4 linked regions of the Homo sapiens genome follow. The protein of the gene in region 4 interacts with the protein of the main gene of each other region in a pairwise test. Each region holds a gene or a part of one and is shown on either strand. Other genes may lie near its edges.

Region 1 (7,953 bases), on a different chromosome or scaffold from region 4:
CCAGGAGCAGTGGCTCTCACCTGTAATCCTAGCACTTTGGGAGGCCGAGGCGGGCAGATTGCCTGAGCTCAGGAGTTCCAGACCAGCCTGGGCAACACAGCGAAACCCCATCTCTACTAAACTACAAAAAATTAGCCAGGCGTGGCGGCATGCACCTGTAGCCCCAGCTACGCGGGAGGCTGAGTCGGAAGAATTGCTTGAACCCGGGAGGCGTGGAAGTTGCAGTGAGCCGAGATCGTGCCACTACACTCCAGCCTGGACGACAGAGTGAGACTCTGTCTCAAAAGAAAAAAAAAATCAGTCAATGTATTGAGGTAGTGAGTCATACCCAGCATTTCTTTTCAGTCAGACCTTTGCTGAATACCCAGCATTTTTTTAATGAGAAAAATAGAATAGAAAATATCATAGTGTACTGCATGTAATGAGGATAAAATTTTGTTTTATTAAACTTTTGACACAGTATGTATGTACTGGGATGTAATCAAAACATTTTCTTGCCATGAGTGGTAGTCAAAGATGTTTTTGAAAGTTTCTGTTAAACTCTCAGAAACACAGTGTTCGTTGTAGCATTGTTGTTTTTAACAGCAAATATTTGAAACCATTTTTATGTCCAACAAAGGAGACTGAATGAATAAATTGTGGTACATTTAGGTTCAATGAAATACTACTCATCAGCAGTGGAAATAAATGAACTAAAAGTATTCATATGGGTAAATATTAAAAACACAGCCTGGCACAGTGACTCACGCCTGTAATCCTAAGACTTTGGGAGGCTGAGGCAGGCAGATCACCTGAGGTCAGGAGTTTGAGACCAGCCTGGCCAACATGGTGAAACCCCGTTTCTACTAAAAATACAAAAAATTAGCCGGGCATGGTGGCACGTGCCTGTAATCCCAGCTACTCGAGAGGCTGAGGCAGGAGAATCGCTTGAACCTGGAAGGCAGAGGTTGCAGTGAGCCGAGGTCACACCATTGCACTCCAGCTTGGGCAACAAGAGCAAAACTCTGTCTCAAAAAAAAAAAAAAAAAAAAAAAAAAAAAAAAAAAAAATATATATATATATATATATATATATATATATATATATATATATCACAATGCTGAGCAAAAAAAGGAAAAAAGAAGACAAGCTGCAGGAAAAAGAAATATAAAATAACTATTTATATAAAATTTAAAAAGAAAAATGGTACATGTAATCTTTTAGTTCTTTGAAATATCTGAAGCATATGGCAAGCTTAAGATTTGACAAAACTCAGTGGTAGGTACACAGATGTTCATTATATTATTTTCTATACTTTTCTGTGTGATTCAAATATTTATGTAAATACAAAGTCTCAAATATTATCAACTTAAGAGTCATAATCCCTATTCCATCTTTATACCTTTAAGATATTTTATCCTAATTTAAAACTTAAAGTAGATAGTAGCAGGCTTTATTGTTATTGTTTTAAAATAACAAATATTGGCCTGGCATGGTGGCTCACACCTGTAATCCCAGCACTTTGGGAGGCCGAGGCAGGTGTATCAACTGAAGTCAGGAGTTCGAGACCAGCTTGACCGACATGGTGAAACCCTGTCTCTACTAAATGCAAAAAATTAGCCAGGCATGGTGGCGCGGGCCTGTAGTCCCAGCTACTTGGGAGGCTGAGGCAGAAGAATCGCTTGAACTCAGGAGGCAGAGGTTGCAGTGAGCCAAGATGGCACCACTGCACTCCAGCCTGGGCAACAAGAGCAAAACTGTCTCAACAAACAAACAAACAAAACAAGCAAACAAAAAAAAGTATTAACAAAATGTTGACCTAAACTTTTTAAAATCATAGATTTGTAGCCACATTTCTTACCACATATTTCATTATTATATGAATGTGAAGGTACCACAGGTCTCATTATTCCCCAAAAACAAAGATAGTACCACAAACTCTCCTATATCTAGCACAGTTGAGGAATCTGGTGTTCTGGTCAGTCAAATTGCTTTTGTTTATTGAGAGTTCCCATAAATAGCAAACATGGATTACCAATTTTCAAAAGAATTAAGACACAATAAAATGTACTTAAGTCTAAAACTACACAGGATATAATTTATTTTTCACGGATGATTATGGAAAGGAACTCCAAGATCTTGCAGTAATTTTTTAAACTTATTTTTATTGCAATAGATTTATCTTCCAGATTAAACGTTTTATTTTGCATGCCATAAAAATCCTGAAAAAAAAACAAGTTATGAATTGTGAATTCTGTCTCCCTACACTAGTTCATAAAAAGGTTCCCAATGTGTTAAAAATAGACATTGTTTCTGGTACATAAATGAGAAAACCTGGTGCTATGGACACTGCAGAAAGACAAAACTCAGAAACAAAATATTTAGATTTTTTTTTTTTTTTTTGAGACGGAGTCTCACTCTGTCGCCCAGGCTGGAGCGCAGTGGCGCAGTCTCTGCTCACTGCAAACTCTGCCTCCCAGGTTCAAGCGATTCTCTTGCCTCAGCCTCCTGAGTAGCTGGGATTACCACGCCCAACTAATTTTTGTATGTTTAGTAGAGACGCGGTTTCACCATGTTGGTCAGGCTGGTCTCGAGCCCCTGACCTCGTGATCCGCCCGCCTCGGCCTCCCAAAGTGCTGAGATTACAGGCGTGAGCCACCGCGCCCAGCAATATTTAGATCTTAAAGCAGCAGTTTGACACTATTTTGTACTACCACGTAGAGCTACGTACCTTTAAAGTCCATGGAAAAAAAATCATCATTGTCCATTTTTAAATCTCTGGCTCAAGCCTGTGAAATAATAACATATTTTAATACTCTGTTTTATCCTCTAGTTTCTCAACAAATTTCTTTCCAGTGAAATGTTTCCCGTTACTTGTTATCCAAAGGGAGAAAAAAAGGCTGAGTAAAGTTAAAAGCCCATGAAAGGGCTTTTGTGAGGGGCAGGGCCAGGCTGCCAAGTTACATAAAAGGGACCTTTTCTTACCATAAGTCTGCCTGGCAACGGGGGAAATGGAGCTGAGTGGTACCCTGTTATTGGTCTGGCTGGGTCTCGCTGCTTCTTCCTAATTGGCTCAAAATCCGCTTCCGCTACCAACCGCACATTCAAAGCATCCAATCACTCACGGTCCTTTTTCCCGCTCTGTGAGAACGCTAGCACCTTCAGTATCCTGCCCCCAACGGTCATGAACAGTCCTGCTTCAACGTAATTTAGGTCCTTCAGCATCTAAACAACAATAACTACTATCTCCGGTTTTCAGTGGCCCACCACAACTCCCCATACTCCTCCATCCTCATCAAAAAACATTACATTGCCCCCAACGGTCATCAACAGTCCCGCTTCAACGTAATTTAGGTCCTTTAGCATCTAAACTACAGTAACTACTATCTCCGGTTTTCAGTGGCCCACCACCGCTCCCCATACTCCTCAATCCTCGTCCAAAAACATTACATTTGCCCATCTTCGTTCGCCTTGAGAGCGACGAGCAGTTCTGTAGTACAAAGTCACTGCCTTAGGGCCGCTCTAAAAAGTTTTGGCCTAATGGCTATAATATATTCTTGCTAGTTATAAACTACCCAACTAACTTGTGCTTGAAGCCTATTCTACCCCTTCCTGCCCACTAAACCACTCACCTCAGCCGCAGCCACCAATGCCGCCCTGCTCTCTCCACAACCTCCGTCCACAGCGCACGAGGACGTTCAGAAAACTCCGCCCCCTAGCGACGCTAGCGGTGTCACGCTAGGCCACTAAAGCCACTCCCACTTGGCCTTTACGCTGTGTCACGGAGCCTAAGCCTTGCGACCCAGTCTAGACCTTAGATCCTGGGGATGCAGTTCAGAGAGTCAGTCACTTGGTGAGTTCAGGGTGAGAATAACTGAGAGTAAGCAAATATGATGTAATTCTGAAAGCATAAGACAATGAATTGAGGGAAAAGTGCAGATGGCCAGGATTACCAAAAGGAGAGCAGGACTTCACACACACAAAAAAAAGAACAGAAAAAGAAATAAAGCAAGTAGACATTGTTGATCACTGGTTATGCAAGAGTGGCAAAGGTCAGAAATAGCAGAAATATTAGAAGCTGAGGAGACTAGTCGAGGCCAGCCTGATCAACAAGCCAGACTGCACCTGAACCAAAAAAAAAAAAAAAAAATCCAGGTGTGGTGGCACACGCCTGTAGTTCCAGCTACTTGGGAGGCTGAGGTGGAAGGATCATTTGAGCCTGAGAGTTTAGGTCCAATAAGCCATGATCCCACCACTGCACTCCAGCCTGGGAGACAGCGAGATCATGTCTCTTAAAAATAAAAAATAAGTCGGGGGCAGTGGCTCACGCCTGTAATCCCAACACTTTGGGAGGCCAAGGCAGGCGGATCACCTGAGATCGGGTGCTCCAGACCAGCCTGACAAACATGGAGAAACCCCGTCTCTACTAAAAACACAAAATTAGCTGGGCGTGGTGGTGCATGCCTATAATGCCAGCTACTTGGGAGGTTGAGGCAGGAGGGAGAATCGCTTGAACCCGGGAGGCAGAGGTTGTGGTGAGCCGAGACATTGCACTCCAGCCTGGGCAACAAGAGCAAAACTCCGTCTCAAAAAATAAATAAATAAATAGGCCGAGCACGGTGGCTCACGCCTGTAATCCCAACACTTTCGGAGGCCGAGGCGGGTAGATCACCTGAGGTCGGGAGTTGGAGACCGGCCTGACCGACATGGCAAAACCCCGTCTCTACTAAAAAAAAAAATACAAAATTGGCTGGATGTGCTGGCGCATGCCTGTAACCAGCTACTCGGGAGGCTGAGGCAGGAGAATCGCTTGAACCCGGGAGGCAGAGGTTGCGGTGAGCCGAGATCGCGCCATTGCACTCCAGCCTGGGCAACAAGAGCGAAACTCCGTCTCAAAAAATAAATAAATAAACAGGCCCAGCGCGGTGGCTCACGCCTGTAATCCCAGCACTTTGGGAGGCTGACGCAGGCGGATCACCTGAGGTCGGGAGTTGGAGACCGGCCTGCCCAACATGAAGAAACTCCGTCTCTACTAAAAAATTACAAAATTAGCCAGGCGTGGTGACACATGTCTGTAACCAGCTACTCGGGAGGCTGAGGCAGGAGAATCTCTTGAACCTGGGAGGCGGAGGTTGCGGTGAGCCAAGATGGCACCATTGCACTTCAGCCTGGGCAACAAGAGCGAAACTCCGTCTCAAAAAAAATGAAAATAAAATAAATAAAAATAAAAAATAAAAATAAAAAAAGCCTTTTAGTTCCAAGACGTTTCTGTTGCCCTGCCTTTGTCCAATCATTAGGAAACTAGGAGACTCCCCTGCAGTCTCACAGCAAGCTCGCATGTCCCACCCATCTCCAAACCAAATGGCTTGAGGGGTGGAATATGTAAGTAAAAATTTGATTCCAGCTAAATCTAAGCATGATGCTAATCTCCACTCAGAGATAACAGTGTGAAAACATGATGCCTCCAGATTTGTAGACAAACACAGAATCAAAACATTAATAAGCCTCCCACTTCTTCCTATATACCCCTCTTTTAAGCCTTGTGCACCTCAGGCCAGATATGGAGCTGGCTAACAGGATAAAGAAGAGAGATTGTGGCTCCAGTTTCTGGGAACATTAACAGAGTTCCTTCCTGATCCTGAAAGTCTCAGAATCAGTCATTAGATCTCGTGGACAAGATGAGGTTACTAAAAGTAATTTATTTTCCCTCTTCAAAATTGTATCTAGATTGCATAGTACAATGAAGAAAAATGGGAAAACAGAAAGTACTGCTATTAATTCCTCTTCTTTTGCATCCTGCAGTTTGGTATGTCTTTATTTCATAACCCTCGATTGCCATATTAGGGAAAGAATTCTGGTGAAAAGGAGCAGTGGAGTATGCCACAGTTGACTGACTCTCCATGCACCATATACTGTGTGGCCTTGAGCCAGCTTTAAGAATCTTAGCATCTAAATTGGGCATGGTGATTCACACCTGTAATCCCAACACTTTGGGAAGCTGAGGCAGAAGGAATCCTTGAGCCCAGGAGTTCAAGACCAGCCTGGGCAACATAGTGAGACCTTGTCTCCATACAAAAAAAGATAATAATAATAATTAAAATTTAAAAAGAGGCTTAGTGCAGTGGCTCACACCTGTAATCCCAGCACTTTGGGAGGCCAGGGTGGGAGGATCACTTCAGCCCAGGAGTTTGAGACCAGCCTGGGCAAAACAATGAGACCACATCTCTAATTTTATTTATTTATTTATTTTTTGAAATGGAGTCTCGCTCTGTCACCCAGGCTGGAGTGCAATGGTGCGATCTCAGCTCACTGCAACCTCTGCCTCCTGGGTTCAAGAGATTATCCTGCCTCAGCCTCCTAAGTAGCTGGGATTACAGGCACCCGCCACAAAGCCCAGACAATTATGGTATTTTTAGTAGAGATGGGGTTTCACCATGTTAGTCAGGCTGGTTTCGAACTCCTGACCTCAGGTGATCCATCCGCCTCAGCCTCCCAAAGTGCTGGGATTACAGGTGTGAGCCACCGTGCCCAGCCTCTATTTAAAAAAATACGTATATATTAAAACAATCTTAGCACCTCAATTTCCTCATATGTACAATGGGAATAAAAGTAATTCTAGGCTTCTGGTTCAATAGAATAATGCACATAAAGCATCTAGAACAATGGGTGGCTGGCATATAGTAGTAGTCACTTAACAAATGTTAGTTCCCATTATCATTTCCCATTTCCTGGTTGACAAACTTCCTACTTCCATTATCCCACCTAAACCCCTGGTTCCACCATAGCTTCTTTGTTCATGGATGAACAGATGAACAAGTAAGGTGATAATTAGAACTCAGCTCTCAAGACTACAAGCAGCCCTTTCACATGCATCTTAGAGTTCTTAATGATTAATAACGTCTGCGGTAGAATGGATATTATACTATTCAGCATTATATAAGGCATATAGGAATCACATGATTCTATTGATGAATACCAGTTGTAAATATGACTCCAAAGTTAGGGCTACTGAGCTGACGCCAGTGCACTGAAAGGGCCAGTGAATAAAGGAAAATGTACGGAAAGGGTGAAAACCCTGATAATACATGGATATCTTCAAATTTTTTTTTGTTTGTTTTTATCCAGATGGCCTTCCTAGATGTTACAAGTAAATGAAAATTAAAAGAAACAGAAGAAAAAAGTAAAAGAGAGAGAAAAGGAGAGCAGATAAAAGAAGCAGGTACATATTGAGGTGGATAAGCAAGAGTGAGCAGTAAAATGCCATTAAGTAGCACTCAACATGCTGTGGATTATCTTCCTTTACCCTCCTAACATAAGCTATAAGTTTTCTGTCCTACCCTTTAACAAAATGTTACAGAAATGGTGAAATACATGGTACATAAGATGGTTGAACAGCTTGGACTCTAATGAGAGCCTATTAAAACTCTCATCAATAGAGTGGATTAAAAGACAGTTAGCAACCAAGAACACAAATTAGTTAATAAAGTAGCATTACGCCCTGTTAAAAGAAGAGAAAGACTTCCAGAATAAACATGCAATTACAGTCAGGAAAATTCTAAAAACAAAATCATTAATGGAGGGAGGAAGAGGAGCTTGTTCTTCCAGATATTAAAACTATTGCAAATAAAATTGTGTGGTAATAGTGCAGACAGATAAATGAACAGAATAGAGTCCAGAAACAGACCCAAATATACATAGAAATTATTGAAATCAGTGGGGCAAAGAATTATTCAAGAAAAAGTGTTGAAATGACTTTAGAGCCATTTGTTAAAAAAAAAAACTAGATCCTTACCTCTCATTTCATATACCAAAATAAATTCTACATTAATCAAAAATTAAATCCAATCATAAAATTTCTATTAAAAATAGGTGTGAATATCTTATAGCTTTATTAATATACTAAGACGTAGTAGTTTTTTTTTTTTAATTTTACCTAGTTGGCAAGATCTAAATATGATCTGGAAACCCAAATCA
Region 2 (7,847 bases), on a different chromosome or scaffold from region 4:
CCCAGATGGGGTGGCGGCCGGGCAGAGGCTGCAATCTCGGCACTTTGGGAGGCCAAGGCAGGCGGCTGGGAGGTGGAGGTTGTAGCGAGCCGAGATCACGCCACTGCACTCCAGCCTGGGCACCATTGAGCACTGAGTGAACCAGACTCTGTCTGCAATCCCGGCACCTCGGGAGGCCGAGGCTGGCGGATCACTCGCGGTTAGGAGCTGGAGACCAGCCCGGCCAACACAGCGAAACCCCGTCTCCACCAAAAAAGTACGAAAACCAGTCAGGCGTGGCGGCGCGCGCCTGTAATCGCAGGCACTCGGCAGGCTGAGGCAGGAGAATCAGGCAGGGAGGTTGCAGTGAGCCAAGATGGCAGCAGTACAGTCCAGCTTCTGCTCGGCATCAGAGGGAGACCGTGGAAAGAGAGGGAGAGGGAGACCATGGGCCGTGGGGAGAGGGAGAGGGAGAGGGAGCGGGAGAGGGAGAGGGAGACTAAACTAAAATTTTTCTAAGCGAGGCCCATCTTTTTTCTTTGCTAGTAAAATTAGTCAGTACTTATCCATGTTCAAGTTTGTCATGGCTTAGAAAAAAAGATTAAGCAAGGTCAAAAGGCAACATAAAGAACTTAAGAAAGTAGTGCTCTTCCCACCTTCCCAAGGGCTGAGTAGGACTTACTGGGCCAGGTGTTAAATTAGTTAGCAGGTAACAATTAAAGGAGCTGGAAAATAATTATCATAAAATAATATAAAATTGGAAGTAATTCTTCTCAAGAGCTAGGTATTGAAAGGCAGTGGCCTTAAGAACTCAACAAGTAGGGTAGCTTTTACTGTCTAAAAACTTTAGGCTGGGTGTGGTGGCTCATGCCTGTAGTCCCAGCACTTTGGGAGGCTGAGGCAGGCGGATCCCTTGAGGTCAGGAGTTTGAGACCAGCCTAGCCAACATGGCAAAATTCCATCTCTCCAAAAAATGCAAAAATTAGCCAGGTGTGGTGGTGCACACTTGTAGTCCCAGCTACTCAGGAGGCTGAGGCGGGAGTATCACTTGAGCCCAGGTGGTCGAGGCTGCAGTGAGCCATGTTCATGCCACTGGATTCAAGCATGGGCAACAGAGTGAGACACTGTCTCAACAACCCAAAACACAAAAACTTTATATAGATAGCCTTGCTTAAGAATTTCTAATTTTGGCCAGGCTCCGTGGCTCACGCCTGTAATCCCAGCACTTTGAGAGGCTAAGGGTGGCCGGATCACCTGAGGTCAGGAGTTTGAGACCAGCCTGGCCAACATAGTGAAACCCTGTCGCTACTAAAAATACAAAAATTAGCTGGGTGTGGTAGTGGGCACCTGTAATCCCAGCTACTCTGGAGGCTGAGGTAGGAGAATTGCTTGAACCTGGGAGCGGAGGTTGCAGTGAGCTGAGATCGTGCCACTGCATTCCAGCCTGGGTGGCAAAGCGAGACTCTGTCTCAAAAAAAAAAAAAAAAAAAAAGGAATTTCCAATTTTAATTAAGGAGATACACTGAAGGTTATCAATACGTAATTATGCATAGAAAGTAGACTTTTTATACTTCCCAATTAATTTCCTATGTAGTTTTTATATCACTTTATATAAAAAAACTGAAAATTACTCTGTTAGTAACTAATTTGTTTTATGAATGATACATAATTTGAAGCATAATTGTAATTTAAATGTTTATTTGAAACATTAGCTTACTAATAAAAAAAATTGAGACATATTTAAAAACACCCAATTTAGTTGGGTTAATCCACTGTAACTGTTTGATTGCAGATGTTTTCCCACACTGATGGGCAGCTAACTGAGGTAGTGCTATCCAGTACAGTCAACTTTCAATTATCTGTGGTAATGGGAAATGACAATGCATGGATAATCCTAAAACAAAATATTTTATACAGTACCTTCCTGTCATCTGCTGTGGCCTGAGCATGTGCTTGGGTTCATGAGGGAGATGTGGGAGTGGGGCTCAGGCTTGCAAAGGAGCTGGGAGTCAGTATGATTATCTCAAGGCCATAAGAGGTATCCTTAAGGAACCTGGGTTTGGCACTGTGTGGCTGAAGTGTCATGGGGAAAGCCTGCAGCATGCAAGATCAGCTTGGCAATATCAGTGAGAAGGATGGGGAAGCTAATTAATAAGGAACTGTGGGAGAATAGTTGTTTATTAAGTCCTATACAATTGCAGTGATATATCTTGGTGTGTTTTTTGGTTAATGGGATCTGTAGCAAACAATAATTATATTAATTGTGTATTTGAATTAGTTTTGGTCATCTTTGATTGCTAGCAGAACACATTTTTTACTTGCCACAGGTGAGTGCTGTTATTGAGGTCTCTTCTAAATAAGTAGGTTTATTGTCATATAACTAGTAACTTAAAAAACCCAGAATAAATTTGAAATACTTTTCTTACTTTTAAAATTCATCCTAAATATCAGTGTTGAACTTGTACTTCCAAAATTTAACTTAATGAAATTTAACATTGTAATGTCAAAGAATATCATGAGGGCAAATGCCATAATTACTGATACTGTGAATTTGATGTAGGAAAAATATAGTAGCCATATTTTATTTAAGAATATGTTACAGGAGCTTTCCTAAATTTCTTTTACAACTGACAATTGTCTACGAATTTATGAATGTTAAAGCTGCATGATAGATGTGAGGAGGGAGTGTTTATTATTCTATCTAATTTGAATATGCTTATTTTCTACAAGTGAAAGCTATAAAAAAATTGAAGCAGATGATTGCTGAAAACCTTAGAATCTTCTGGACCAACCTGAGAATCTTCTGCTTGTTTATGAAATAGATTTAGTGCTCTCTGTCAAATTATTCAAACTCCAAATAGAACCGTAGCCATTTTCTAAAGGCATGTTTTCTTCTGCCCACAGGCAATACTGCAGTTCAACCCCGTGTGGTAGTATGATGGCAAGAATGCAAATTATACCGTTGTTAGATTACCTTTATTATTATAGATGTTTTTTAAAAGTTATTTACTTAAAATATCTATACTTAGGCAAATTAGAGGCGTTGATCTTGAGTCGACTTTTGTGACCAAATTTGGAAACAATTGCAGTTTGAGATTGAATGAGGTAAGGGACCAGCTAATTAGTCCTTCCTCTATAGATCTTTGGTTCTCAACCAGGGAAGTTTTGCCCCCAAGGGGACATTTGGCAATGTTAGACATTTTTGGTTGTCACATCTCATGGTGGGGGAGTGCTACAGTTATCTACCTGGATGCTTTTCTATATTCTGCAATCCTCAAGACAGCAGCCTTCACCCCTGCCCACAACAAAGAATTATCAAGCCCAAAATGTCAATAGTGCCACTGTTGAGTTACCCTGCCCCTAGTGTTTCTAAGATGTAGGCATTCTTTGAAGTAGACAATTAAAAACATCATATAGCCAAACTAAATTATTTTGACTTTCTGTATACTTATGCTGTTTAAAAAACATGCCTTCAGTTTTTACTGAGATTTGATATAAAAAGCAACAACAAATATATTTTTAAAGAATTTAATCCTGGGAAACATTTCACTTTCCTGATGAATTGATATATTTCCTCGTAACTCATTATGTTTCTATTTTGCCTTCTCTCCCTGGAGGCTTAGTGCCAATTTTTTTGCTCTATTATAACAATGACCCTTTATTTTAGGCTTATTGTTATCTTTCTATTTACTGTATTGGTCTTCCCTTTTTTTTTTTTTTTTTTTACTGTTATGGTCTATGGGTTTGGGCTAAGTGTGTGTTTGTGTGTATATGAAGAGAACATGTGGGTAATATGTAAATGTCCCCAATCCCTAGACCAAGTCACATCTCTATAAGATCAAATGAACAGATTTCTAATTTATATTTTAATGCTTTTTTAAAGTCTCAATTTTTCAAACAAGAAATATGTGCTTGTTATAAAATATTACTGTGTGTTAGTGTAAATAATAAGTGGAAGATTACTTCTCCCTGTTCATTCTCTGGAGATTTATTAATATTTCTAGTATGTGCCAGGCATAGTGGCTCATGCCTATAATCCCAGCACTTTGGGAGACTGAGGCAGGAGCATTGTTTGAGGTCAGGAGTTCAAGACCATCCTGGGCAACACAGTGACATCCCATCTCTACAAAAAATAAAATTAGCTGGGCATGGTGGTACATGCCTGTAGTCCTAGCTACTCAGGAGGCTGAGGTAAGAGGATGCTTGAGCCTAGGAGTTCAAGACTACAGTATGCTATGATTGTCCCATTGCACTCCAGCCTCTGTGACAGAGTGAGAACCTGTTGCAAAAAAATGTATATTTATAGTATGCAGATGTGAAATAGAAGCTATAAGCTTGTAATTCTGTTATGGCTGCTCAGGTTTACACTCTTATAGTTTCATTTCTGAATAAGTTAAGTACATTTCTAAAAACTGAGGAGAATAAAAACAATGTCTTGAGGATTGTGTTATCTGATGAACCTTTTATTGATCTGACGAAGACCCATTTTATAAAAAAAGTGTCATATTTTATTTTTTGAAGCATACTTGATGGTATGAAATGGTATTTCTAGCCCATACTTTTAATGATTTAGAATGACTCACTAAACTTTATTCAAGGCCAGTACATTGGCTTACTCCTGTAATCCCAGCACTTTGGGAGGCCAAGGTGGGTGGATCACTTGAGCTTAGGAGTTCAAGACCTGCCTGGGCAACATGGAAAAACCCCAACTCTACAGACAGTAGAGAAATTAGGCCAGCATGGTGGAACACGCCTGTAGTCCCAGCTCCTTAGGAAGCTCAGGCGGGAGAATCATTTCAGCCTGAGAGGTCGAGGATGCAGTGAGCCATGATCGGGCCAGTCCACTCCAGCCTGGGCGACAGAGTGAGATACTGTCTCATAAAAATAAAATTTAATCCAAATGTGATTAATTTCCATTTCTCTAAAGTTAAAAATTAAGTGAATTCCAATATCATCACTAATATGCAAGCTTAACTTTTCTGTTACAGTTTTCCCAAGCAGTTGAAGAGGAAAGCTATTCTCATAATTAGCCTAACATGCGTAGAAAAGTTTAGAGATTATTTTTTTTCTTTTTCTTTTTCTTTTCTTTTCTTTTTTTTTTTTAAGATGGAGTCTCGCTCTGTTGCCCAGGCTGGAGTGCAGTGGCACAATCTCGGCTCATTGCAAGCTCTGCCTCCTGGGTTCACGCCATTCTCCTGCCTCAGCCCCCCAAGTAGCTGGGACTACAGGCACCCGCCACCATGCCCGGCTAATTTTTGTATTTTTAGTAGAGACGGGGTTTCACCGTGTTAGCCAGGATGGTCTCGATCTCCGGACTTTGTGATCCGCCCACCTTGGCCTCCCAAAGTGCTGGGATTATAGGCGTGAGCCACCATGCCTGGCTGAGATTGTTTTTTTCTTGAATACTTAAAATTGTAAGATTACTACCATGGTTAGTTTTTTATTTGATGTTCCATTTATACATTCGTTAGCTCTGGAACATATAGATCCTGTTGTTTTTAAGGTCTCTTGGTTGTAGAGAAATAAGAGGCTTTGAATTTGTTTCAGGCTTACCTCATACTTGAGGCAGTTTAGAAGGATAAATGATCAGTGTTCAGATTTCTTAAAGCAGTATTTTATAATGTCATGATGATTATCTTTTCACTGTTACTACCAGGTTCTTTTAGAAAGGGGAAATTGAAGTAGGACATTGAAGTGGGACTGGGGAGGAGTTAGCAAAAAATGTGTCTGTTGATTGCTGCTTGAGCCAGGAATTGGTGGTAAGAGATGTGAACCATTTTAGTGAAGTGATTTTTCAAACTCTTTTGACTGCGACACACAGGAAAAAATTTTTTTTACGTTGTATTCAGCACATAATTCATGTATATATTTATATATATAATAAACAGACTTTTCAAGAAACAGTATTTTACCTTACTATGTGTACATGCAGTCTGATGTTTCTGTTCTATTTGATTTGAAATAATTGCTGCTTACATACCACTAAATTGCAGCTTGCAGTTTAAAAAATTTTGCTTTAGTGTACTAATTACCTGTGTATGTGGAGAAATTCACCCTCTGTTAGCAAATAGAAGATTGTAATTACAATACATTCTTACTCGTATGTCTTATGTGAGCATTTAATAAATATAAATAAATTAATGAAATATTTTACAGGCATTTTGTCATGATAAAATATAAGCAGCTTTGCCCAAGCAACTTGGTCTTTTGGGGTCAAAAAATGGCTTTTTTGTTTTTTGACACAGGGTCTTGCTCTGTCACCCAGGCTAGAGTGCAGTGGTGCATTCATGGCTCACTGCAGCTTTGACCTCCTGGACTCAAGCAGTTCTCTTATTTCAGCCTCTCAGTTAGCTGGGATTACAGGCATGTGCTGTCATACCCAGCTACTTTTTGTAGAGACGGGGTTTCGCCATGTTGCCCAGGCTGGTCATGAACTCCTGGGATCAAGCAATCTGCCCACCTTGGCCTCCCAAAGTGCTTGGATTACGGGCCTGAGCCACTGTGCCTGGCTTTATTTTTAACATTATATTTCAGCCCTCTTTCTTTTTAAATAAAAAGATGTTTAAACATGAATAGAAATTATACTAATAGGTCATTAGAAATGTAACTAGATTAATTTCGGGGGCTTTCTTAATCACTATATTAGTCTAAATCTTAATGGAGAGGGAAAAATTAGCATGCTTTAACCCAGGGGTTGGCAAACCTTTTCTGTAAAGGAGCCAGCTAATATATACTTCAGTTTTTGTGGGCCATACCATCTCTGTTGTGGCTCATCTCTGCCATTACAGTGTAAAGCCTAGACAGATAAGCAAGTGAGCGGCATGGCTGTATTCCAATAAAACTTTACTTATGGAAAAGCAAATTTGAATTTTATATAATTTTCACGTGAAGGTTTTTTTTGGTTGTTCTTTTCTCCAAACATTAAAAAATGTAAACACCACTCTTAGCTTGTGGGCTGTAAAAATCAGATGATGGGCCAGATTTGGCCTGTGGGCCATGGTTTACCAGCCCTTGCTTTAACCTAAAAATGGAGAAAATCAGTAGTCCAGAAGAATAAAAATTTAGCAAGCATAGTTTAGAATATGAGTAGCAATATTAAATCTCTAGGCATATATATTTTGATTTTTGTGGATATTAGAACTATACATTTTTGTGTTGTTTTTTACATTATATTTTGCAGACAGTTGATATTCATAAAGAGAAAGTTGCAAGAAGAGAAATTGGTATTTTGACTACCAATAAAAACACTTCAAGGACACATAAGATTATTGCTCCAGCCAACCTTGAACGACCAGTTCGTTATATTAGAAAACCTATTGACTATACAATTCTAGATGATATTGGACATGGAGTAAAGGTAGGTATAATTTTTTTCAAGCTTTTAAAAGTAGTAACCCATAATGAAACCAACTCTTGAGAAAATTAAGCTTTTTATCTGTCTTTCTTTCCTAGAGGACAAAGTCTTGGCCCAGTTGTGGTTGTGAAGATTCCTTGCTACTATAACTGTTTTACCCTTTTTGCTTTTTCTTAGTGATGTATTCTCAAGTTTTAAACAGTCATCTTTGAATGAATTATATTTGCTTGGTTATGATAATACCTCCTATGGTTTGAGTAAATAAGTGTCGTGTAATCTTTCCAATTTTAATTTAATATGACTGATTAAAAAATCATTCATCATGTTATTATGAAAGTGTTTACCTTATCTCAAGTATTTATCAGCAGACTTTTGGCATTAGTTTTCAAAAACAAGATATATTAATAGACATGTACTTTGAATTTTTCTAAAATAATTTTATCCCAACATTTTGGGCAAGAATAGTGTTAGGTAAAAGTGATAGGTGAATTAATATTGCCACTGCTTTTGAGTG
Region 3 (8,170 bases), on a different chromosome or scaffold from region 4:
GGGAAGACTGCTGTGTGGTCACCCTCAGGATGAGGACGCTGGGGAAGCAACTCATCAAGGTGAGACGGTCAGAGGCAACCCTGCACATGCACAGCTACTCTAGTGCCCACTGGGAGACTCTGCTCATTCTCTTCACTCCCAGATTTAAGTTGCAGGGAAAATGCATTATTTTTTCATTAAACATTTATTTTGGAATGGATAGCCTTCAGAGATGTAATTAGCCATGTTATTTCTCTCCATTAGCAGTCCCTGGCATTTGCTGGAGTTTCTTGTCCTTTTTCCTCTCCATTTCACTCTTTCCATCATCTTTATAATCTAGGTTGCAATACTTCCCCACCCCCACCTCCAACCAGCACCACATAGTCTGTTTTTAGACTGAATAACTATTTTAAAACCTGGAGAGGGAGTTATAGCAAACTCCCCCCCCTCCCCACTGGGCTGTAGGATTACAGTCCCCTGAGCCAGCTAGGAGCTCCACGATGCCCACCACTGCCAACAGGAAGGGGGAGGCAGCTCCACGTGACACTGTGACGGCCTGGCTAGTGGCAAAGCTAGGCAGAGCTAGGAAGGTTGTTGGCTCCCCATGTTCTGGCTGGATGATCCCAGGTAAGTTACTTAACCTTTCTGAGCTTCTGTTGACTTCATAGTGTTCAAGGCTGGCACTCACTTAGGTAAAGCACTTCACCGGAGGTATATAGCAAGTGCCCAGTAAAAGGCAGCTGTGGTGGGGAGGTCCACAGGCAAGAGGGAGACTTGGGGACTAAATGAACAGGAGACATGGGTAGCAGGAAAGGCATAGCCTGGGCTTGGTGAGTCCGAGCTACCTGCTTTGGTGGTGACCCAGGAGCCTGGGCTGGGGGACAGGTGACAGGTAGAACCATGAGGAAGACCCCTCACGGAGCAGGACTGGGTGGAAAGAGTAGTCAGGAGCTCTGCCTCAGCTGCCCATGGCTGAGTGTCCCTCTTTTGTCCAGAGTTGCTCCTATGGGTTATTTCTGGAATGCAAGAGAGCTACCTAGGAGGTGGGCTCCCCAAGACCTTAGAGATGGCCCAAAGTGCAGTAACTCCTTAGCCCTCCAACTAGGTTAGGGGATTTCTAGGGTGACTGGGCTGGTTATTGCTCTGGGGAATCCAACTACCTTGGTGCTCAGAAGGGAGCTGTCTCCACCACTCCCCGTCCCTGCTATCCTCACGCTAGTGACACATGACGTGCAGCCATCTCCAGCATTGTCAGAAATGCCATGCTCCATGGAGTTGAGGGCAGAAAGCCTGAAGCCAAAAATCTAAACTTACCCTGGTCCTCCACAAAGAGGGGTAAAGAGAAAAGTGCAGCTTTGGCATGGAAGATCCTTGGCATTTTGCAATGAAATAAAATCAGAATGCGTGTGATTTCTATCAAGATCTAGAGTGCCGCAGACTGAGACAGTCATGGGTAGGTATCCTTTGAAGGGGTTGATACTTGTTAACAGGGATACAGTTGCATGGCATTTCACAAAGTTGTGTCTTGTTGCATTGACATGAAGGGAACTGGAGTGAACCTGCTTTTTAATACTGGCCTTACCTGCTTTTATAGTAATCCTGGTCCCCTAGGTCCCCAGAGACATGCAGAGAAGTGGAAATTGGCTCAGAGGGTCTTTGAACTTGTACATGGATGTCACTACAAGCCTCATGGAAGCAGGCAGCATTTTGATGTGAGTCTAGTTCACAGAAGTAAATTTTCATAGTGATTTTTGTGGACAAGTCCTAGGCATTAGTAATAATACTGGCGATGCTGAAGATAATAATAACTACCACACATTGGGTGCCTCCTGCGCTCCAGGGCCATGCTTCAATTACCTTCAGTTCTGTAAAGCATTACCATCCTCATGGCACATGTGGAGATGCCGAGACTCGGGCAGGGTAGAGAAGATTCGCACTGTGTAGAGGACGGCAAACAGCACAACAATGCCCGCCACCAGGAGCAGCAGAACCAGGATGTCAGCCCACTCCATGGTTTATAGGTGTCGCCACGAAAGACACGACTCACACAGGCACTAGATGGAACAACACTTTACTCACACAGAGAAGAGACAGAGTAAGATCAGCTGCAATCATGGGTTCAGTCCCGCATGGCCAGGGGTCTCCTGCTACAGCAGACACAAGGTGACGGTCTGCACACACCCCTCTTGTGCAGCAGCGGGTGGACCCTGTTTCCTCCCCACCTGGAACAGATATAACAGTGGGGTTGGCCAGGTGCCTGCCACATGACGCACAAGCTTAAGCAGAACAAAGAGTACACGCTGAGTCTGAAACAGGAAAAAGATATTCCCACGTAAGGCGATAAGCCCAGCACAAGCTATGAGAGCTCCTTATCTGTTGGTAAGGAAGTGTTTTTGGCTCAAGGCCACTTGTATGGGGCTGAGCAGAGGTTAAAAAACCACATGCATGAGACTGCCTTTCTCAACCTAGGTCATATCATTGGTGTGCAGCAGAGCCAGGATTTGAACCGGGTCTTTTTGGCACCAAAGCCTATGAGCTTTCTCATTGATGAGAGGTCTTCCCCAGGCCACTCCAAGTCTCCTCTCCCTCCTCATGCCAGCCACATCAGCTAATGGACAGCCAGATTCAGCAGAGAAAAATGAACTGAGTGGGTTTCTCCCTCCTTGGACTTCTTTAATGCAAACACCTAAAATAATATTTTCCCTGAAGAATCCTCACGTATAGAAGTTTAAAGCAGAAAGCTGGATTCCCATCAGAGATGAGAAAATGCATAACAGAAAAGCAATATATGGGAAACCAAGGCACTTGGGCAATTATGTAAATAAATGGACATGGTAAGGATCATTCAGCCCTGGAAAAAAATGGACACATGTAATTCCCTTTCAGAATCTGAAAAAAGAAGAAAGAGGGATGGAATAAAAGCCCTTTTTGCTTCCGTTACAGAGTCCTGCAGTTCTGTTTGAATATTAAGCCTCCATGTGGTTGCTATGGGGCTTTTGTAATATGACTAAACTGTATTGGCTCATTTGGGGAAGGGTTATCACCTACAATTCACAGATAGGATGCCAGAGGTTAAAAGAAGTTCAGTAGTTGATCTATGTTCACCATGTTCGTTTTAGAAGCCAGGTTGAATTGAGCCCTCAGATGTTTCCAATTCCCGACCTGATCCTCATCTTCTCAAGGAACAATTGCAGTGAATCCTCAGTTGCCTACGTGGTTAATGTGGAAGAACAGAGACATAGATAATCCTAAATGATGTCTATGTCTCTTGCTCTAAACATTTGCTTTGGAAACTTCTTGCAGACCTTAGAATGAAGCCACCCTAATGTGCAAGGGGCCCCATCCTTACTCCACACCTTCCCTACTCAACGTTGCCCACCTCCCACTCCATGAAGACCTAGGGGCAGTAGATCAAAGGGAAGAGGCTCTTAACTCTCTCCTAGGTTGAGCTAGGGTAGTGGGTAGAGGAGAGAGGCCGATAATAAGGCATTTTGATTTAAAAGGCCTTCTGCAGTGCCGCAGGCAAGCAGAACAGAAACAGTAAATGAGACAATGAATTGTGTCCGTGGAAGACTCCATATGGACAGTGATTCATTATGTTAATAAGGAGGTGAAAGCCAGAGGTTGACTGTATTCTGATTTCATGTCTGGGGAATCTGTAGCTCAGAAGCGGGGAGCATCCAAATTTGAGGTCAGAGTCCAAATTCCAACACCCAGCTCCTGATTCCAATTTGGTTGGTCGAATTACTATCATCTCCTAATGACTAAGGATGCTTTAGAGCCAGATGGGACCTGAGTAGAAGTGCAAGCAATGCTTAAGGTGGAGAAGAGTGATGCTGGAGCCAAGCAGAGCCAACTCCTTGGGTCCATGCAACAAATATTGAGCACCTACCAAGTGCCAAGTGATGGCAGAACTGGCATTGGGAGAGGGAACCACAGAGGAATCTGATGTTGACCCTGGCCTAAAGGAACTCAGGGTAGGAGGTGATATGGGGCAGGCACAAATCTCTGTCATACATACAGAGAGGGAAGTGAGATGAGGTCTAAGACAGCTTCATTTATTCTCCCATTCAATTAAATCATTAACTCAGCTACTCAGGCACGATCGTAAGTGCTCCAAATAAAAAGCTAAACAAAACTGATCTCCACCCCAGAAGCTACCATTCCAATGCTGAAGCTAAGTCACCCCAGGAGGCATATCAAAACACATTCCCCAGCCCCCCAGGCCCCAGCACTGACATACTGATTCTGAATCTTTATAACTGGTACCCAAGACATCTGAAGCCTGGTTTCTAGTTATTCTCCAACTTTGGGCACTGGTCTGGTGGAATAGGGAGGGAGTCCAGCTAAGAGAGTCCAGAGGAAGAGTCAGAGATAGAGAGCAAGGCTTCATGGCCCACCTCTCCCTGGAAGCCCTCCTTGACCAGCACAGCCCACACTGATCCCCATGTCCTCTGAATCCAACCTCCACTGCGTGTTCTGCAGTTTTGCATTTTTCTGTTTGTTGTTGTTTTTTGTTTTTCTTTCTTTCTTTTCTTTTCTTTCCTTTTTTTTTTTTTTTCCAAAACTAGCAGGTTTAATCCCTCTTCTCCTGCTTGTGTCTCATCTCTAAAGGTGGGTGTTCCCGTGTTCCAGGTCATTGTGATGAGAGTTCCAGGGGACTTGTGACACACTGCTGGCCGGCTCTGTTCAAGTGTGGGAGGTCAGGAGCAGCCAGTTCCTCCTGGGAATGCAACCCATCTCCGAAAAGGATTAAGCATCACTAGGGCTCCAAGTGAGTTCTGATCAGAGGCTGTTCGGAAGACAGCAGGGGCCATGACCACCCTCTCTCCTGAAAACAGCCTCTCTGCCAGACAGTCAGCCTCCTTCATCCTGGTGCGTGTTCTTTGTCAGCTCTGAGTGCCTCCCTCCCCAGCCTCTGGTTGGCACTGGGACCATTTTCCCCTGCTGGGTAGGAAAAGCTAGAACCCTGAGCTAACATAGAAGGTGGAGCAAGGGCGGTTGTACCTTACTCTTACCATCAGCCCAAGGACAGGACTGAGACATCCAAGCCCCCTTTCACCTTCTTTCCAAGCCAGCAAAACCTTCTCCACATATGTGCTATTCTAACTTTATTGAGTTGTAGGTTTGCAGGTGCGAACCTGAAGATGCTGATAGATTTTCATCGGTGCTTTTTGCCAACAATTTTGGTATACTGCCACCAGGTGGCAGTAATGCTTTTGTTAGTAGGTAGTTCTAAACCCAGTTTACAAGATACAGCTATTTGTTAGAAGTCGGCTTCAGTCATAAAAATTTTCCACACGGTATTTTTTCAAAATCATAACTAATTACAATAACTTTAGCCAATCTTAAGTCTCATTAATCATAGTGATTAAGAGAGTGATACATAAAAATGCAAAATGGACACTCCTCTCCCTGAGTTTTAAATGTTACTGCTTTATGGCAAATTATCACCAGGCCTTGCTTTAAATTTTCTTTATATCTTTCTCATTTCTCTGAGCTTAGAGAAGGCTAATAAAATAAACTGTCACATAGCATTTATTATGTACGATGAATGTTCTAAATGCTTTATTTATAGTCATTCATTCTCATCACAACTCTATGAAGTGAATAATGCTGTTGTCTTCCTTTTATAAATGAGAACATGGAGCCACAGAGACTTTGTCACTTGCCTACAGTCACACAGCTTGTTAAGTGGCAGAAGTTGTATTTCGACCCAGACAGGTGGGGTGCAAAACTCAGTATTCTCAAAGTGTGGCATCCAAACCTGCAGCATTAGCACCAACTGGGAACTTGTAAGAATGCAGACTCTTGGGCCCCAGATCTTCTGAACCAATAAACTGGAGACGAAGCCCAGAGATCTGTGTTTTTTGTAACTCATCCCTCCAGGGCACTGTGATGCACAATTAGCTTTGTGAACCACTGTTTTAAACCATTTTCTTCATCACGGTGCTGTACTGATGATACACCCTCCACACCTGGGTTGGTAATAATTGCTGAAGTGGGAACCCCTTGTTACGGTTGGGAGTCTATCTTGTCCTCAGGTGAACTGGAGTAGAAAAGAGAACCTGTCCAGGTGCAGTGGCTCACGCCTGTAATCCCAGCACTTTGGGAGGCCGAAGCGGGCAGATCACCTGAGGTCGCGAGTTCAAGACCAGCCTGGCCAATATGGCAAAACCCTGTCTCTACTAAAAAATACAAAAAATTAGCCAGGCGTGGTAGTGAGTCCCTGTAATCCCAGCTACTTAAGAGACTGAGGCAGGAGAATCACTTGAACCAGGGAGGTGGAGGTTGCAGTGAGCTGAGATTGCGCCACTGCACTCCAGCCTGGGCGACAGAGTGAGACTCCATCAAAAAAAAAAAAAAAGAAGAAGAAGAAGAAGAAAGAAGGAAGGAAGGAGGGAAGGAGGGAAGAAGGGAAGGAAGGAAGGGAGGGAGGGAGGGAGGGAGGGAAGCTTAAGCAAAGTCAATGACCTTCCCTGGGCTTTATTGGAGGTTCTGTGGCTATGAGTATTCAGAGAAACTTGGCATTAAAACCCTCATAAAAAGTTTTTCTTGTCCTCCAAAGGCTTTCTTTTTTTACTGAAAATATGGGAGAAAACCCCTAACCCAATGATGCAGTGGGGAGAGGAGATTTATGCCTGAAGCCAAGGCCTCTAGCAGCAGGAAACTTTTAGAGGGACTGAGCCACTTAGGGCTCCCACTTCTGGTCCCCTTCCCCAGGGGAAGAATGGCCAAGGCTTCCTCAGGTTTGCTGATGTAGAACTTTAACCTGCCTAGATACACCCTGAAGGTGGGAGATTTCCATAGCTGCTCTATCTAGCAGTACGCTTCCCAGGACACTAGGAAAGGCACCACTGCAGAGCTGGAGGGTATCCAGCCCCCTCGCAAACTGCAGACTTCCCCTCCCGGATTACCAGGTCATTATACCCAGTGTATGGAAAAGGGTGTTATTAGGTTGGTTGAGCAAAGAACAGAGGAATATGGGAAGATGAAGGTTGATTTGAGAAGCCACTGTGTTGACAATCTCCGTCACATTAAAGGAGCCCAGATACACATTCTCTGATTTCTAGCATAGGCAGGTAGGTGGTGTGCATGTAGAGAGAGGGCTTCTAAGTGACATTTCCCCCTTTGCCTTCTGCGGGTCAACAGCCTTCTTGTTCTGGTCCTTGGCTTGCTAGCAAGTGTCTGAGATAGTCTTGTGGGTGGCCTATAGTTTGCTGAAGTTTGGAGAGATACAGGGAACTGGTGGGTGTAGAGAAATGGAGTTTCCTAGAAGGAAGAATCAGTGACTTTTTTTGTGGGTTTTTTTTTTTTTTTTTTTTTTTTTTTTTTTTTTTTTTTTTTTTTTGAGACGGAGTCTTGCTCTGTCACCCAGGCTGGAGTGCAGTGGTGCGATCTCAGCTCACTGCAAGCTCCGCCTCCTGGGTTCACGTCATTCTCCTGCCTCAGCCTCCCAAGTAGCTGGGACCACAGGTGCCCACTACAACACCCGGGTAATTTTTGTTTTTTTTTTTTTGTATTTTTTTTAGTAGAGAAGGGGTTTCACCATGTTGGTCAGGATGGTCTCGATCTCTTGACCTCGTGATCCACCCGCCTCGGCCTCCCAAAGTGCTGGGATTACAGGCGTGAGCCACCGCGCCCGGCCGAAGCAGTGACTTTTTATAAACAAATTCAACCACGGCAAAGTAGGCAGATGGCCAATTGTTACAGGTAGAGGTTTAGAAATGCAAATTCTCTGAATACTCAACAGATGTCTTCTTGTGATGTTTCTAATTATTTCTGCCTTATTGCGTTGATGCTGTATCTTTTGTTACGGTGTGCGGTGCATATTACTTTAATTTCAATATTACCTCTCCATTGTGTTTGACTTTTTTTCGTATCTTTGTTCGTCATTTATTTTTTAATCATTGTAGGGCATTTGATTTTAAGGTATTTCTTTTGTTCACAGCTTGTGTAAGATACATATTTTTTATTTGAGTGGAAAATCCTTGCCTTTTAATTCCTTCCCACTGCCCCTCCCACCCCCAGCATGGCATTAGGGTTAAGCCTCTGACTGTTGCATCAAACAGCTTAGGGTTCAAACTCCAGCTCTGATACTTTCTGTATCTAATCTCAGATATGCTAATTAACCCTCCTGTGGTCTCAGTTCCCTGATCTGTAAAACAGTACAAGAACTTTACCACTTCAT
Region 4 (7,847 bases):
TTTTTCAAACCTTTTGGCTAACACATTGCTTCTTATCTGCCCTTCACTTGTTCTGTATTAAGTCAGTGAAATTCAACTTGACTTGAGAAATAGTCACTCATTTTATAGCAGCTATACTTCTTAGAATAAGAATATCTAGGTTTTTAGTTTAAAAAAGTATTAAGAAATACCTTTGGAAAAGATGGGCCTCAAGTTGTTAATAAAAAAAGAAAATGCTTAAACAGTTCGCAATATTATGTATTCAGATTTCTTTGGAAGATTATAAAATATGGTACCATTTGTTTTTCAAAGTGGGACAGGTGGCCACTTTGTCTCATGTATGAGATACTGTTATGTGTGCAATAATTCAAGAGCAAAGTAGATCTAGAACACAGATCTCTTTAATCGTAGGGCGAAGTGCTACAAAGACAATTTACCTCAGACACAATTAAGCAACCACCTAGTATAATCTGTATTTTAAGTCCTTTATTTAATAGCATTTGAAAATAATTCTCTTTATAATATTTTGTTTATGAAGCGTCACCCTAGACTTTTATATTTCATAAATGTAAAAAGTACATCTCTTTTTTTAGCTGAAAAAGTTCTGAACTATGTTTCTATAATCACTTCTTCCAATGAAACTGCCACACTGCTATTAGTTATGTTTCCTGAAGATATATATATCTTATTTCTTCACTTGAATTCTTAAAATCCTTTCTTGGCCCCTTATTTCAGGCAGAGCAAAGTGCCGACTTTCTTGTATGACATATAAAGAGGCTTCTCAGTCTGGTGCCCACTTACCATATAAGACTTATTTGTTACACCTCACATTCAGTACCTTGCTTTCCACTCAGGTAGAGCTGCTTCTGTTTTCTGAATATTTAGGGGATCTCTTGCTCTCAAAACTGCATATAGTTTTCCTTCTGTTTGCTGTGTCCATCCCCTTCTTAGACAGAAGAAGTCATGCTTAGTTTTCAATATACAACTCAAAATGTTAGATGCCTGTGAAAGCTTCTCTAGTTGTTACTGTCCCCTGGCTGAAATAGTTATTCTTCCTCTGTTTTCTCATACTGTTCTATTGAACTCTTAAGGAATGTAAAACATAAGAGTCAATATAGCAAAATATCAAAAGCATATATTTAATCCAACTAAGCTGTTTTTTTAAATCAATGAAACTGAGATAATAGAACTCACTTCTGTAGGGTTGCAGTAGAATAAGTAATCAATGCACACCCCACTTAGTAAAGTGCCTAACACACGATAAGTGTTCAGTAATTGCCATCTACCTGTATGTGAATAGATGTTTATTTGTATTTATTCTCAGTGAGTTTGTGAGTTTCTCAAGGAAGGTAACTATATTTTAAGTTATCCATAATTCCAAACACAAATCTTAGGACATAATAAGTAAACTATTTATTTTGTTGATGAATGAGTGAAGGAATTATCTTAGCTATATCAAGATGTGGTAGAGCAAGACAACATGGAGTTGAATCTTGATTTCTCTCCTTCCTTGCTATGTGACTTGGACAATTTAATTAACCTCTCTATATTAGTTTTCTTGTTTGTAAATAGGATAACAGTACTAACCTCATAAGGTCTTTATGAAGATTGAATATGTTAATACAGGCATACTGCTAGAGTAGAGCCAAATTTCTTCTATTACTACTGTTATAATTATCTATTGTCATTATCCATTCTAGCAAATAATTTGTGAAACTGAATTATTTTTCCATCATTTGCGTCTCTCAGAAAGACACTCTTTCTAAAGCCACCTTGTGAGTTTCATTCTGATCATAGACATACTGCTCTTCTGAGTTTTTCTATTTACACATACTTTAAATGGACTGGTCTTATAGAAGTAGTAATAGTAGTAGTAATAATAATATGAAAATATATAAACTAGCAAACATTTACTGTGTGACTGCTTTGTGCCAGGTAATATTCTAACCAGTTTCTACATGTTAACTCATTTAGGCTCACAGTAATCCTCAAACGTAGATATTATGATTTACCCCCATTTCATGCACGAGGACACCGAAACTTAGTAGCTTGTTAAAGGTTACACAACATTGTAATTAGCTGAGCTGGGATTTAAATCCAAACAGTTTACTTTCATAGTATACATTTTTTCTATTATATTTTTGTGCATTTAGGTATGGATGTGGTAAACTTTCAGTTTAACTATTATAAATGACTTCCATTGTTCTACTTCTAATTACTTTTACTATTTCATAGTATATAGACTATATCTATATATACAGAAATATATATTACAGATACAAATATATAAATAGTACATGTAGATCATGTTATCAAATAGTCTTTTCTTATTATCATTTACTTACTTATTCCACAAGTTTTATTGAGTACCCCGTTTGTCCCAAGTATTGTGCTTATATATTAAGAATATATCAGTGATCAGGATAGGTCTGACAAAAGGAACTTTCTGCTTTCCTGGTGTTTTCACTCTGAAGAAGGGGTGTTTGCATATGATGATATTAAATAATTAATTTTGTACTGTGTTAGTTTGTTCTCATGTTGGTAATAAAGACATACCCAGTACTGGGTAATTTATAAAGGCGGGACATTTAATTGACTCACAGTTCCACATGGCTGGAGTAGGGGGCTCACAATCATGGCAGAAAGCAAGGGGGAAGCAAGACACATCTTACATGGAAGCAGGCAAGAGAGAGCTTGTGCAGGAAAACCCCCATTTATAAAACCATCAGATATCATGAGCCTTATTCACTACCATGAAAACAGTATGGGGGAACTGCCCCTATGATTCAATTATCTTCACCTGGCCCCGCCCTTGACACATGGGGATTATTACAATTCAAGATGAGATTTGGATGGGGACACAGCCAAACCATATCATATACTAAGTAATTTCTTTATAGTTATAAATATTTTGAAGGAAAAATATTGGATATTATGAGCATGGGATACACCATCTAATTTGGAGGTTGAAAGATGGCTTTCCTGGGAAAATCTTAGTTTTGTAAATATTTATATTCATGGGTACTAAGGATTGTAAGGGTAAATGAATATACACATACATACATGGACAATCACCTATTTAGGAATACTTAAGAATGATCCAACTGTGAATGATTGTATCGGGAAGACCACATTTGTGGCATCTGTTCTTTTTATGGGAAATTACCCTTTGTTGTCTAGGTTAGCATATTTTAAGTGACTGTTATAGAGAAGTATTTTCTCTTTTGGAGATCTAAAGATGTACGTTCTCTTAGTACATATAAGAGTAAGAATGAAGAGATTTAACAAGGTACTTTCCTTCCACTTCCTCTTTGTGAAAACAAACCTATAAATGCCTGTCATTGTATAGTTAGGAGTTAAGCTGTATTCTTGATTGGCTGAACTGACTATTAAGTTTCATTTTCCCTCAAAAAAAGTTTTCTAAATAATGAGTTTAGAATAACTGTTCACACTTGACTGAAGGTTGGTATTTTTGGAATAAATGCTTTTGGGGGTAGAGATCACACAAGTTCATTAGTACTAAACTTCAAATACCCAAGCTTTTATGGTCAAACATGAAAAATTGGCCAGCATTTTCAATGTTGCTTCCATAGAAAACTGTATTCTATGTTAGAAGCATTATTTATACTCCAAATGCACTTTATGAAATACATGATATTTCTAAGTTGGATATATGTTATCAAACCCAGTTATTTCTACAGTTTGGAAGCTTTTGTTTGGAAGCTTTTGTGCATCTTTTTTCTTTTTTTCTTTTTTCGAGACAGAGTCTCGCTCTGTCACCCAGGGTAGAGTACAGTGGCGTGATCTTAGCTCACTGCAACCTCTGCCTCCTGGGTTCAAGTGATTCTCCTGCCTCAGCCTCCTGAGTAGCTGAGATTACAGGTGCGTGCCACTACGTCTGGCTAATTTTTGTATTTTTAGTAAAGATGGGGTTTCACCATGTTGGTCAGGCTTGTCTCGAACTCCTGACCTCGTGATCTGCCTGCCTCGGCCTCCCAAAATGCTGGGATTACAGGCGTGAGCCACTGCGACATCTTACAGTGATCAAATTTGTCCACTTTAGAAGGGACAATGATTCTATTACTTGCTGTAGGGAAATTAGTCTTGTTCCAAACCCTGCTGATAATGACTGTTTTCCTTATCATATTCCTACATATGTGTCTCTTACAACCCTTCAAGAGAAGAATGAAATCTTACAGTAGGAAGAAATAACATATTCTTCTCGTTGCTTGCACTTATCCTCTGTTTTCTTCTTCTGTTGCACTACATTAGAGAATTCTTTTGAGTCAGTGACAGAGTGATGAGGATAGACTGAACCAATTATTTGACTTGATTTTATATCTTCTTACTGGAATTTATACTAGATTGTTTTATGCTTACTTAAAATGTTGGATATTCTTAGGGACGTATACAGCTCAATCTTATTTTAACTGCTGGTTTTTTTCTTTTGAGTGCTTCATTGTTCGTTATGGCAATTTATATTCTTAGAAATTGGTAGTGGACCTGTACGTATGTACCCGGTACAAGGAGATGCTCAGTAATATTTTTTAATGAGTTACTCTAAACCATGTTTTGGGTGCATATGTATGTGTGCATGCATCTATTTGCATATGGACATACACTGACCAGTCTATATTATTAAACTGTGCTGGTATTTGATATAGTTTTCCTGTTTTTACCATTTCCATATCATGTACCATGTTGCATAATAGTTAAGATTTTGTAGTGTTTTGTGAACATTTAGTTTCTTAGATTTCTGCATTTCATTCGCTCCCACTTTTTCCCATTATAAAGGGAATGTTGTACAAAGATACATTGTATGATATTCTGAACATTCATTTTAAGAGAATAAACTTTGGAAAGTATAGCTTTCATGGACCTTATTTTATGACATTGAAGATTGCATCTTATGACTTGGACTGTTTAATTTACAATTGTGTACATCTGTGTGGGTGATGGATATTTCTGGTGAGTGTGAAATATATATGCAATGTGTTATTCCATGTTTACTTCTGCAGGAAAATTTCAACCTAAATATTACTGCATGTAATTTTTAATATGCAAAAATTCAGTTAAATAAGGTATTGGTGTGAGTGACTGTTTTCCTATGAGAGGTGAGTGTACATTAGATAACTCATATTTTTATCTTTGGCTTGGGACTCAGGCAATAGAAATGAGGTTGATATTGTACCCATGTTCTTCTTGTCATATGTGTTGGCATGGATTTTTGGTTTGTTGAGAACAGATATTTTAATGTATTTGCTTAATTTTTAGGAGTTTAGGCATATAACCCAAAATAAAATTCTTTGAGAAATGACAGGAAGATTTTCTTTTCACATCAAATGTCTATTAATTACTTTTTAAACAGTGGTAAAATCACTCTAAAATGTTAGAATTTTCATATACTAAAAGCAAATCCTAGCACAGCAATTCATTTGAGCAAATTCCAAGAAAACATTTTTCTCAGTTACATTCAGGTTATTTTCCAAATTGCAAAAATAGGACTTTCCTCAAATTCTGAATTCTAATCATCTTGAGAAAAGAAATATATTTGAAACCTAAATTCAGAACACACTTGCTTGTTAGCAAGAAAGTCATGCCAAAGATAATAGTAGTTAAAATCTTGTGGAAGGCAGATGGTTGTTGTAAGACAGATTTTTCAGTTTGGATTTTAAATTTAAGTATGATATTTGCTTTCTTTCTGGAAATACCAGAAAGTTTGCTTTATTTCATCTGCTACATGAATAGATGACAAAAAAGAAAAAAATTACAGGCTGACAAACACTGAATAATTAGGATGTGTTAATTTTTCTTAGAGACCCATTTATTTCACAATGTCTAAAATAACGTTAGGCAAATACCTTCTATCTTATATTGCATGTGCTGTTATTTTCTCTTACTTTCTTCAGACATCTCGTGGGGAATTTGACTCCAGTGAATTTGAAGTTAGGAGACGATATCAAGATTTCCTTTGGTTGAAGGGAAAACTGGAAGAAGCACACCCCACTCTGATTATTCCAGTAAGTTTGCAAAATTTTTTTTTTCATAGAATAGCTACCAGTTTTCTAGTGAGTCTTTTTGAATGCCTAAAACCTAATTTCAGACCTTAAGTTCACTGTAATTCATTTATCTTAGGAATAATATTTATTTCTAAGTGTTTCAATCAATGTACATTTTTTTTTTAAAAAAAACTCTTCATAATGTGTTATGATTTCTCATTTTTGGTTCTAACATTGTGAATTTTTAAAAATTATTTTTATAAGAAATGATCAGATGTTCAACTAGTCTTCCAAACAGGGAAAGCGTAGAATTGCTTATAAACCTATGGCTAATAATACTTGAATACCTTTTTAATTTTTTTTGCCTTAGCCATTGCCAGAAAAGTTTATAGTAAAAGGAATGGTGGAACGCTTTAACGATGACTTCATTGAGACACGCAGGAAGGCTTTACATAAATTTTTGAACCGAATTGCTGATCATCCAACTTTAACATTTAATGAAGACTTCAAAATTTTTCTCACTGCACAAGCTTGGGTAAATGATTTTTATTTATACTCATATAATCTTTGGGTGTCTGTATCTATAGTAGATTGTATTGTTCCTCTTGTTTACCGTTACAAATCATGCAGTGGTGTACTTGAATTGAGATGGAATTTTTCAGAAACACTGGAGAGTTATCCTTCAGATATAACCCTGTGTCAAATCTACATATAAATATTACAGAAATCTTGTATCTTCTCCATATATATACACACACACACACACACACACACTCTCTCTCTCTCTCTCTCTCTCTCTCTCTAATGTTTTTATGTCAGGGTGCTTCTTGCATAAATAGCAAATACTGAACAGGTATAAATATATTTCTTTCATTGACACTGTAGTTGACCCTTGAACAACATGGCGGTTAGGGAAGCCAACCCCTTATGAAATTGAAAATCCATGTGTAACTTTTAATTTCTCAGAAACTTAACTACTAGTAGCCTCCTGTTGATTGGAAGCCTTAACTGTAACATAAACAGTTGGTTAACACATATGTATACCTTTTGTGTATTATATACTGTATTTTTTGCAATAAAGTAACCTAGAGAAAAGAAAATGTTATTTAAGAAAATCCTAAGGAAGACAAAATATACCAACAGTATTCTACTGTATTTATTGATACCAAGTTTATGTTGTCTGTTTACAAGATGAATTGTCAGTCTGAAATGGAGGGCAATGACAGTGGCAGACCTCAGTCTATGGTACTTAGCAAGCAATTCAACTTTTTTTGTAATGACATGACTTTTCTCTGCTTCTTGGGAACATTTCCAGCATCACTAGTGGCACTTCATATGGGTCCCATGGTATTATTTCAGGTTTATAGTATTGCACTAAACACAATAAAAAAAATACATGGGAACCACAAGAGATCACTTTTTACTGCTACACCCAATTTAATGGAGAGATGAACTACTCACATGGAGATGATCAGCGTCACATGGCATTTTAAGCAGATATTCACAACACTGGAGCTCACCACAAATAGCAACAGGAGGGCTACAAAAATAGTACAATAGTACAGTGTGTAGTGTAGTTAATTTTAAGCAGTTTTGATTTAATACTGCATCTTTATGTTTGTTTACATTTCTCTCAACTGCATATGGTGGCATGTAAGTCAAAATATGTGCATACGTTTTGATAAATTTTAACTTTTTATAATAGATTTATACACATTTTAGGGTAGTAAATGATAGACTAGTATCCACATACATTTTGTGGATTCATGACATACCTTTCTCTCAGTTTTTTCTACATTTCTGGACTATGTGGTTTGTGAGGTTTTTTTAGTTGTCACAAATCTCCAAAAAATTTTCCAGTATATTTAT

Evidence for each region.
Region 1: the proteins of SNX7 (region 4) and TEX11 interact in binary tests that used the Homo sapiens proteins (3 or more experiments, as listed by UniProt).
Region 2: the proteins of SNX7 (region 4) and ABI2 interact in binary tests that used the Homo sapiens proteins (3 or more experiments, as listed by UniProt).
Region 3: the proteins of SNX7 (region 4) and TBC1D21 interact in binary tests that used the Homo sapiens proteins (3 or more experiments, as listed by UniProt).

Annotation. Positions count from the first base shown.
Region 1 is NC_000023.11:70,905,043-70,912,995, forward strand, and holds the start of TEX11 (testis-expressed protein 11), read right to left. Parts: upstream 3,670-7,953; 5' UTR 3,612-3,669; intron 2,769-3,611; 5' UTR 2,748-2,768; coding exon 2,711-2,747; intron 1-2,710. UniProt on the Homo sapiens protein: Regulator of crossing-over during meiosis. Involved in initiation and/or maintenance of chromosome synapsis and formation of crossovers.
Region 2 is NC_000002.12:203,373,049-203,380,895, forward strand, and holds part of ABI2 (abl interactor 2), read left to right. Parts: intron 1-2,883; exon of another isoform or gene 2,884-2,967; coding exon of another isoform or gene 2,968-3,084; intron 3,085-7,159; coding exon 7,160-7,336; intron 7,337-7,847. UniProt on the Homo sapiens protein: Regulator of actin cytoskeleton dynamics underlying cell motility and adhesion. Functions as a component of the WAVE complex, which activates actin nucleating machinery Arp2/3 to drive lamellipodia formation.
Region 3 is NC_000015.10:73,868,916-73,877,085, forward strand, and holds the start of TBC1D21 (TBC1 domain family member 21), read left to right. Parts: upstream 1-4,648; 5' UTR 4,649-4,794; coding exon 4,795-4,854; intron 4,855-8,170. UniProt on the Homo sapiens protein: Acts as a GTPase-activating protein for Rab family protein(s). Essential for the establishment of male fertility, and is required for both the production of normal sperm number and sperm function.
Region 4 is NC_000001.11:98,685,187-98,693,033, forward strand, and holds part of SNX7 (sorting nexin-7), read left to right. Parts: intron 1-5,888; coding exon 5,889-5,999; intron 6,000-6,348; coding exon 6,349-6,513; intron 6,514-7,847. UniProt on the Homo sapiens protein: Involved in the regulation of endocytosis and in several stages of intracellular trafficking. Together with SNX4, involved in autophagosome assembly by regulating trafficking and recycling of phospholipid scramblase ATG9A.